Linked DNA regions of Homo sapiens. Changing the gene in region 1 together with any one later gene gives a genetic interaction. Each region holds a gene or a part of one and is shown on either strand. Other genes may lie near its edges.

Region 1 (4,783 bases):
CCCGCACAACTGGCCGGGGACAGCTCTGAGCCCCGAGCCTGTAAAGGACGGGCTCCATAATCCTCTGGCAAATCCTGTAAGATGCCTGCAGTAAGGTGCCAGGTTGGAGCAGAGGAAGAGCCTTACACTTCATCCCTGAAGTCACATTTGAAGGAAGACCCTCAAGGTGGAGGGCTTCTAATTACATCTTCATCTTTCTGGGCTTAACAATAGTTTCAGTTCTCTTTTTGAAGAGAAAGATCTTGAAACCTCCTTGGTGTCCAACAGTCCTTTTGGCTGTCTCACCTCTTTTTTCTTTTCTTTTAATGCATAATTAATCTAGATGTCAGCAAATGGGCTGAGACTGTCTGGTAGATGCAGTGTTTGTATGTTTCTACTCTATTACAAAAATTAACAGAAATATGGCTTCGCTTTGTGCAAATGTTTATATCACAGTCTGTAAAATGAATTATATTTAAAACTATCCACAAAGCTAGATATTTAGAGAACCCTTGGCAGAGTTCTTTCGTAAAGTGAAGACATTTTCAGGTACTTTAAGTTCTTCAAAAGCAGGAATAACTGTGTAAACGTAAGGGCAAAAGGCCTTTCAGGCATGAGAGAACACATGAAAACACGTGTCTGGCTTCAAAACCACCCCCAGCCCCTGCCTGCCTGCGTTTTACGCGCTCTTCCTGTGCTTCATTATGCGTCGTGCTTCCTGTTCCACTCAGCTCACTCTCCACGTGGACGTATAAACTATGGGAGAAACAGTGATGGCCTCTCCTCCACCGCCAGGCTGGCAGGGGTCGTTTGGCTGGCATCAGGCTGGAGGAGACTCGGATGGGTAAGACCAACGCACTTAGTTTTGGGTGTGTGGGGAGGGCAAGAGGAGCATGAGCGGCGATCTGTGGGGGGTGTCTTCCCTGTTGTAAATCTCCCTGTACGTGCAGGTGCACGGCGAGAGGGTCTCCACACCTCCCAGCTTTTCTCTGAGGATGTCCAGAAGGAACGAGCAAAGCAGGATTGGCCTCCAGAACAGAGGCCCCGAGGCTGACTCCAGATTTCCTGTCTACGAGCTGTGTCCTCCCAGCACGCCTGCCCCTTGCATTCATGAACAGTGACCCAGCTGCAGGGACTGCGTGGCTGAACGCCGACCAACTGCGGGGAAGTCCTGGGCTGGGCCGTGGCTTGGGACCAAGAAGACACGCAGCAGACACCAGTGAAGCAGGAGTTTTATTGAGTTCCTCCATGTCACATTAATACATTAGCTTCAAGACACAGTTTCAAAGACCCGGGTCCTTCTGACGTAGTGTGTTGGAGGCAGCTAGGCCAGCTTGAGGCACTGTGTGTTGAAGCTGTCCCCCTCCTTGCCGGCGACAGCCTCCAGCAGGGCCTGTTTCTTCTGCATGCTCCGTGAGGACTCCAGCTCGTACATGGTGGTCAGGTTGAAGAGCACGCTCTCGTGCAGGTAGTGCCTGGGGTCCTGCTGGACCATGGCCTCCAGCTGCCGCAGGGAGTCCTTGAGCTTGCCCAGGTAGAGCAGACACACGGCAGCGTTGTTGTTGGCCTAGGGAGGAGCACACGCCCAGGGTTGGCCCACACAACCAGGACAGACGCCCGCCCATTCCAGGCTGCGTGCTGGGCCGTGTTAGGGGCCTGGGGGTGGTGCAGAGCTGCTGGGCAGAGCCTAGGTGGCCCTGTTGGGTCACTTCCCCTAAGGGCCACAGCCACTGCCTGGAGCTGGTGGACTGGAGAGAGAGAGCGCAGGCCCCTGCTGAGACGTGTGTGGGTGTATGTTTCTAGCGTCTGTGAAAGGCAGAGGATGGAGGATCCTGCAGCTTGGGGATCTTACCACTGCGTTTCTTGGATCCATCCTTAAGATCTCTGTGAAGAACCTGTGGGCTTCTGCAAAGTTATTCTGCCCGAGGTGAAGGAACGCGCTGTAACACAAGCAACGGTGGCAGTTAGCGGGGAAAGCCCAGGAGCTGCTGTCCCCCAACACAACCCACAGGGGCTTTGGATCCCACAGAGACCCAGCGTATGGCCCTGTGTGGCCCGGGGTTCCTGATCTCCAGGTAGAGGCGGTGAGCTGCGTTTTGCATTCAGGCTCGCACATTAAAGCCACTCTAGTTTTTATTTATTTTTATTTTTTAGATGGAGTTTTGCTCTCGTTGCCCAGGCTGTAGTGCAGTGGCACGATCTCGGCTCACCGCAACCTCCGCCTCCTGGATTCAAGCAACTCTCCTGCCTCAGCCTCCCAAGTAGCTGGGATTACAGGCGACTGCCACCACGCCTGGCTAATTTTTTGTATTTTTAGTAGAGATGGGGTTTCACCATGTTGGCCAGGCTGGCCTCAAACTCCTGACCTCAAGTGATCTACGTGCCTCAGCTTCCCAAAGTGCTGAGATTACAGGCATGAGCCACTGCACCCGGCCAAGCCACTCTAGTTTTTGTTAATTGAGATAGAGTAACTTCACCTAAATGACTTCCTGCTAAAAGCGGACACCTGCTTTATTTACGCTTTCTGATCCTGGCTGCAGGCTTTGTCCAAGGCGTGTTTCCTCCTCACGAACGTGCACTCGCACGACGCTGTGCGTTCTACCACAGAACACCAGAGCACGGGATCCAGACACAGAACACCAGAGCACGGGATCCAGACACAGAACACCAGAGCACAGGATCCAGAACGGCCGCTACGCCAGCAATGGTGACCTTTACACACACATACGCTGAAAACGGGGGCAATACAAGCGCTTCTCTGAAGAACAAGGGGGAATAGCTCCTTAAAAATCAGCTTCTGTGACTAAAAGAACATCACTGCGATTCAAGAAAACACCTGTATACTCCTTGGGTCTCCGCTCTGAGAGACACAGGGCAAGAGGAGATACAGGGAGAAGCGCCTTCTCTAGGGAGCTTTCCAACTCAGTAAGTGGGGCTTGAACGCCTCTGGGAAATTTGAGAAAACATATATTTAGTTTTAAAATATTTACCTGTTCATCAAAACCATGATTTTACCCTGTAGTCCATCTAATTTCTGTGTTACTTTCTCAACGTCTTGAAAATACTTTTCAGCTGTTTTTATGTCTCCAATCTGCTTTGACAAAATTTAGTCAGTTTAGTTGACAAAAGAAATATTAAGTCTATACTCATATATTTAGTTCCCTAATATCATGTTAGAATATGAAGACATTTATATGTCAGGCAGAGGAAAACTTCAGTAACCATTTAATCATTTTTTAATAAAAAGGCAAAAGACATTTAAGATACAGTGGAATGTTAATGTTCTATATGTCAGAAACTAAGTTGCTAATATACACGCCTTATTTAAGAGTCTTATAGTTTAGTAATTTTTACCTTTTGGAATGAATTCTGGCAGAGCATTAGATAAAATAAAATGAATAACTAATAAGATGAAACATAAAATACTTAAAATATTGGTATAATATGAGCAGGTCCTACGTCAACTTATGAGTTACTTGTGGCTAGTAAAATGGTAGGTGCCACCACATTTGCAAATTGCAAAGTAATATTTTGACCAAATAATATAGAATTCAACTGTAAAAAACAAGCCAAACCAAACTCAAACCCACTCTTATCACGCATGTCAGGAAACCCACCGGCTGCCCGACTGAAATGCAGCCGGATGCAGCAGGCCTGTGGCAGAGGAGGCCTGGGGGGTGGAAGGCTGAGTGCCCCAGCCCTGACTCCTGAGGCCACAGCTTGGTTTTACAAAGGCAGACTTGGGTTTTCTTTCACCTCTAGAAGTGTAAGGAAGGGAATAAATGATCTAAGGCTTACAATAAGAAATAGATACAAATGAAAGAAAAGTCCTATTATGGCCCAAGCCGCGCTCACGAGGGTAAAGACAGAGTTGCTTTGTGTCCGGGGCACAGCCTGCGGGAGCCAGAATGTGACAGCGAGCTCTGTTATCATGGCAGCAGCAGAAACTTAACAGAATGCTGTCCTCTGTCTCGATGAGAAACAAGCTGAATGCGCGCGGCTCACCTCCATGAGGAGGGCTGGGGCACCCATCACTATCATACTGAGCAGCCTAGTTAACTCTTAGACTGTCCACGCCAAGCATCTGTCCAGCATTAAAACAAGCCTGCTAACTTCTCAGATGACTGGTGGGGAGATGGTTCTCCATGGGTGTCATGTTTCTGCATGTCTTCCAAGCACAGACAGTGACAAGGCTTTGTTCAAAGCATTTACACAAGGATGCCTGTTTAGAGGACAGCCTTGTAAGCTAAACTGCATCCCTCTGGGGCAAAGGGCAGGCAGGCTCGCCTCCCAGTAGCAAGGATTTGGGTGTTCTAAGTTCAGGATTCCTCTCCAGCCACACAGCCCACTGCAGGCCTCATGAGGCCCTCGGTGAAGACCCTGAGGAATCAGGGCCCCGTGGCTGGTGGGAAGAATGCCACTCTGGCTGTACTGCTGTTGCTGTGTAATAAATAGCCTTCCTCTCTAACGTAGGAATCTTACATTTTTTGCCAGCATCCATGAAAGTGGCAGCTAACTCCACAGCTTGGAAACAGGATAACATCTCAGGCCCTTCACAACTGTTGCTGTTATCCCACAAAAGAAATACCATACGAGGAGGAAGAAAAAACAGAATGAAACAAGAGAAAACACAGGCGTGCACACACACCACACACTGAATGGCATCTGTCCATCGCTGCCCGTCGTCTGCACAGTCCGAAGCCGTTTGAAGTCCACTACTATCGATTTCCCACTTGCGGACTAAAAAGAAACCGAAGGCAGCATGGGCTCCGTGACGCGGCCCTCAGCTCGAACGCCTGCATCT
Region 2 (5,109 bases), on another chromosome or scaffold:
CCCTTAAGTCTTGCCCTAGCTGTGCTCTGCCACCTTCCAGACTCACTCCCCTCTGCAAATACCTGCATTTCTTACCCTGGTGAGAAAAGCACAAGCGGTGTAGGCTCCAATGCTGCTTTCCCAGGAGGGTGAAGATGGTGCTGTGCTGAGGAAAGGGGATGCAGAGCCCTGCCCAGCACCACCACCTCCTATGCTCCTGGATCCCTAGGCTCTGTTCCATGAGCCTGTTGCAGGTTTTGGTACTTTAGAAATGTAACTTTTTGCTCTTATAATTTTATTTTATTAAATTAAATTACTGCAGTGGACTTGGTCCTGTGTTTTGGTTGACTGAAAGGGCATTATTATATGGTAGTTTTTCCAAACTGCCTTTAGCTTCAGTGTGTGAACTCTTAAGACTCACTGGTATTCTGTTATTTTCACTACAAAACCAGCTCAACTTGCTGTGCTCATGAAAACAGCAAGAGCTGGAGGGATGAAGAAGCTAGGGAAGGATAACATCCACTTCACAAGGGAAAGCAGAACTGTATAAAAACGGCATATTCTTTATTTTGCATACTTTAATTTCAGAACAAAATGAAGAAAATAAAATAAACCACAATACACAACATCCAATCCTGCTGTCAAGAGTAGAGAGGGAATGGGGCTTGACACCCTTAGTTTACTGCCTTCAACACAAGGACAGGAGAGGGAAAAAAACACTAGACACCAGCAGGGGGAGCCAGGTGGGACAGGGGCACTCGAGGCTGCAGTGGGAGCCCATGGGGACACTATACAAGGGCACAAGTTTTCCAACTATGAACTCCTAACCTAATCGACTTCTTCCATGCGAGACGCATCCTCATCGCCCTCGAGAGGGGGGATCTCATCAGGAACTGCAGCATTGGGTTCCTCTGCTGCCACTTCATCTTCATCAATACCTGAAGTAAAATTAAGCCATGTGAGACTTGACCAAATAGCATTAAGTCAAATCCATAGAGGAGACGAGTTGCACAAACTCCTTGCCACACCAAGTACCAAAGCTACTTACCTAGACCTAGCTTGATCATGCGATAGATGCGGTTGGAGTGGGTCTGGGGATCCTCAAGGGAAAAGCCAGAAGATAGCAGGGCGGTTTCAAACAGCAGCACCACCAGGTCCTTAACTGCCTTATCATTCTTGTCGGCCTCAGCCTTCTGCCGCAGCGTCTCCACAATGGGGTGGTCAGGGTTGATCTCCAGGTGCTTTTTGGCCATCATATAGCCCATGGTGGAGTTGTCCCGAAGTGCCTGGGCTTTCATGATCCGCTCCATATTGGCTGTCCAGCCGTAGGTGCTGGTCACAATGCAGCAAGGTGAAGACACAAGTCTATTGGAGATTGTCACCTGTGGACGATCACAAAAGCCTTAGATTGACATTACCACTTTGAAAGAGAAAACAGGCATTGTCAAGCCTAATTCCAGCAGGGGGAGGAGGTGGACAGACCACTTGAGTTTGAGACCATGCTGGCCAACATGGCAAAACCCTGTCTACAAAAAATTAACCGGGTGTGGTAGCACACATCTGTAATCCCAGCCACTCAGGAGACTTGAGTTTGCAGTGAGCGAGATCCAGTCCAAAAAAAAAAAAAATCGGCCAGGCATGGTGGCTTGCGCCTGTTAATCCCAGCACTTTGGGAGGCCGAGGTGGGCGAATCACAAGGTCAGGAGATGGAGACCATCCTGGCTAACGCGATGAAACCCCATCTCTACTAAAAATACAAAAAATTAGCCGGGGTGTGGTGGCGGGCGCCTGTAGTGGCAGCTACTCAGGAGGCTAAGGCAGGAGAATGGCGTGAACCCAGGAGGCGGAGCTTGCAATGAGCAGAGATCGTGCCACTGCACTCCAGCCTGGGTGACAGAGCGAGACCCCATCTCAAAAAAAGAAAAAAAAAAGAAAATGATGGTATTTTATCTACTCTCAGAAGTTAACTGAAGCAATGCCTAATCTGTGCCAAATTTTATTAAAATAGCCTTAAACCTGACTAGAGAAGAGAACAAGAGGCAAGAAGGCATGAAACAGTAAATAGGCTGCCTCAAACCACTAATTGTATAGAAACATGCTTGTGAGGGAGCCCACCTCGAAGATGTTACAAAATATATCCTAGCCCCAGAATGGCTTACCTTCTCAACCTTCTTATCTAAGATTTCTTTCATGAGCTTGCAGAGGTTCTCAAACTTTGCCTTGCTCTCTTCCATCTTCTTCTTCTCCTCCTCATCCTCAGGCAGCTCCAGACCCTCCTTGGTAACTGAGACCAGGCTCTTCCCATCAAATTCCTTGAGCTGCTGCACACAGTACTCGTCAATGGGCTCGGTCATATATACCACCTCGAAGCCCCGTTTCCGCACTCGCTCCACAAAAGCTGAGTTGGCCACCTGCTCTTTGCTCTCACCTGTAGGGTAATTAAATGAACTCAGTGACTAAAATGCCTCATACTGCCAGTTCCCAGGAAGCCCTAATTGTGCTCCCCACTCCTCCAAAAAGGCTTCAATCAGAGTCAACGCACCAGTGATGTAATAGATGGACTTCTGTGTCTCCTTCATGCGAGAAACATACTCTGACAGAGATGTCATCTCATCTCCAGACTGGGAGGTATGATAGCGCAGCAGCTCAGACAGGCGGCGGCGGTTAGTGGAGTCTTCGTGGATTCCAAGCTTGAAGGGTGGGAAGAGGAAAAACAATCCAGCTTAACTACAATAACTTCACTTTCAATGTGAATGGAATAATTTATTGTTATTACTAAGAAAGTGGTAAAGGGAATAAGCATTATTTGCCTTTTTACCTTGAGATTTTTAGAGAATGCCTCATAGAATTTCTTGTAATTCTCCTTGTCTTCTGCCAGCTCAGAGAAGAGCTCAAGGCACTTCTTAACAATGTTTTTGCGAATGACTTTCAAGATTTTGCTCTGCTGGAGCATTTCTCGGGAGATGTTCAGGGGCAGATCCTCAGAGTCAACCACACCACGGATAAAATCTGCCATCAACCAGGGTGAGAAAGCTCAGTAAAAAACAGCTAGACCAGACCTGGTCCCCAGATTCAAACAGAAGGCTCTAATAGCCTCCTGAACCCTTACACCTACTATGTATTGCAGAAAACTGTTACCTTAGAATATCCTAGCAGAATGCCTAAAACCTCCCAAGACTTCACCCAACTAAATTAGGCCAAGGAGATACTCACTGAGATACTCTGGTATCAACTCATCACAGCTGTCCATGATGAACACACGGCGGACATAGAGTTTGATGTTGTTCTTTTTCTTCTTGTTCTCAAAAAGGTCAAAGGGAGCCCGACGAGGAATAAATAGCAATGCCCTGAATTCCAACTGACCTTCTACAGAAAAGTGCTGAAAGAAACCAAAAATAAGTGGTACATTTCAAAAGAGGACCTTTTAGCCCCAACACCAAATTATCTAAAAGTGGAACAATGATCCTCCCTAAGCCTAAGGGATAGAGCACACACAACAAGCAGCTCCTGAGAAAACTGAGCCTTAATGCCCTCCACGATCTAGATGGGTACTAGCTGTATGTAGAAAACAGTCCCCTCTGATCAGAACCCTGGATGTGTAAGGCTGCCAATAGACATTACCCAGATTTCCATAAGAAGAGAAAGTGAGGTCATTAGAAATGATGGCACTTCACTATGACAGGGTAATCAGTAAGTGAAATCACATGGCTATCACATTTCTGTTATCAGTTGGACAAGTTCCGTGTGTCTATTACCCAACACTCTTCCACCTAACTCATTCCTCTCCATATGTGCATGTTGAGCCAACATGCAAAGGCTTCTCACACCTTGACTGCCAAGTGGTCTTCCCAGTCATTAGTGAGGCTCTTGTAGAATTCTCCATACTCCTCTTGGGTGATGTCATCAGGGTTTCTGGTCCAAATAGGCTTGGTCTTGTTTAGTTCTTCCTGATCAATGTATTTCTCTTTGATCTTCTTAGTTTTCTTCTTCTTATCCTTACCGCTGTCATCCTCCTCATCTGAACCCACATCTTCGATCTTGGGTTTTTCTTCATCATCTTTATCTTCCTCTTCTTTCTCACCTTTCTCTTCCTCTGCCTCATCATCACTAATTTCCTTCTCTCGTTCCTTCTCCAACTAAGTAACAAAAACAGAAGTTAGCCTTGGAGTACAAAACACTACCAGGGAAAGCAAAAGCCAGGGACAATGAGATTCTCCAGAACAGGAAACATCCTGCACGTTAAGTGTAAAAGATTTAAAAGTCCATACTCACATAAAGGGTGATGGGATAGCCTATGAACTGAGAATGCTTCTTCACTACTTCTTTGACCCGCCTCTCTTCTAGGTACTCTGTCTGATCTTCTTTAAGATGGAGGATCACTTTGGTACCCCTGCCAATGGGCTCACCTAGAAGAGTCAATTACAAGCGTGTAACAGGGTAAAAAGTATATGCAGTTGAGACCAGCAATTAGTAAGTATCAGCAGAACTGCTGTGAAGAACTGCTTTACAGACAGGATGCCCAAAATTTCTGCTACTGGTGTGAGCCCAGAAAATCCTAACCCAACTACCTTGTAACAGAAAAGCTAACTTACCATGGTCAGCACGCACAGTGAAGGAACCTCCAGCAGAAGACTCCCAAGCATACTGTTCATCATCGTTGTGCTTTGTGATCACAACCACTTTCTCTGCCACCAAGTAGGCAGAATAAAAGCCAACACCAAACTGCCCAATCATGGAGATGTCTGCACCAGCCTGCCAACAAGTTTAAAGTCAATCACAAGTTTTAAAGAAGCAAAAAACCAAAGAACACAGATAAGTATGAATGCCTACAGAACTGCAATACCTGAAGAGCCTCCATGAATGCTTTAGTACCAGACTTGGCAATGGTTCCCAAATTATTTATGAGATCAGCTTTGGTCATGCCAATGCCTGTGTCTACCAAAGTCAGGGTACGTTCCTGAGGGTTGGGGATGATGTCAATTTTCAGCTCTTTACCACTGTCCAACTTCGAAGGGTCTGTCAGGCTCTCATAGCGAATCTTGTCCAAGGCCTGGAAATACAAACAGCAACTTACTTTTGCTCTTTCCAAGACAGACTCTTGCTCTGTTGCCCAAGCTACAGTGCAGTGGC

Evidence for each region. A genetic interaction does not mean that the proteins touch.
Region 2: changes in TRAPPC12 (region 1) and HSP90AB1 together harm fitness more than expected from each alone (negative genetic interaction), as found in Homo sapiens cells (one large-scale study listed by BioGRID).

Annotation. Positions count from the first base shown.
Region 1 is NC_000002.12:3,475,982-3,480,764, reverse strand, and holds the end of TRAPPC12 (trafficking protein particle complex subunit 12), read right to left. Parts: intron 3,071-4,783; coding exon 2,970-3,070; intron 2,173-2,969; exon of another isoform or gene 1,920-2,172; coding exon 1,832-1,919; exon of another isoform or gene 1,547-1,831; coding exon 1,304-1,546; 3' UTR 1,200-1,303; downstream 1-1,199. UniProt on the Homo sapiens protein: Component of the TRAPP complex, which is involved in endoplasmic reticulum to Golgi apparatus trafficking at a very early stage.
Region 2 is NC_000006.12:44,249,297-44,254,405, reverse strand, and holds the end of HSP90AB1 (heat shock protein HSP 90-beta), read right to left. Parts: intron 5,030-5,109; coding exon 4,823-5,029; intron 4,732-4,822; coding exon 4,572-4,731; intron 4,386-4,571; coding exon 4,252-4,385; intron 4,116-4,251; coding exon 3,807-4,115; intron 3,359-3,806; coding exon 3,193-3,358; intron 2,989-3,192; coding exon 2,798-2,988; intron 2,670-2,797; coding exon 2,522-2,669; intron 2,408-2,521; coding exon 2,139-2,407; intron 1,362-2,138; coding exon 1,028-1,361; intron 918-1,027; coding exon 808-917; 3' UTR 523-807; downstream 1-522. UniProt on the Homo sapiens protein: Molecular chaperone that promotes the maturation, structural maintenance and proper regulation of specific target proteins involved for instance in cell cycle control and signal transduction. Undergoes a functional cycle linked to its ATPase activity.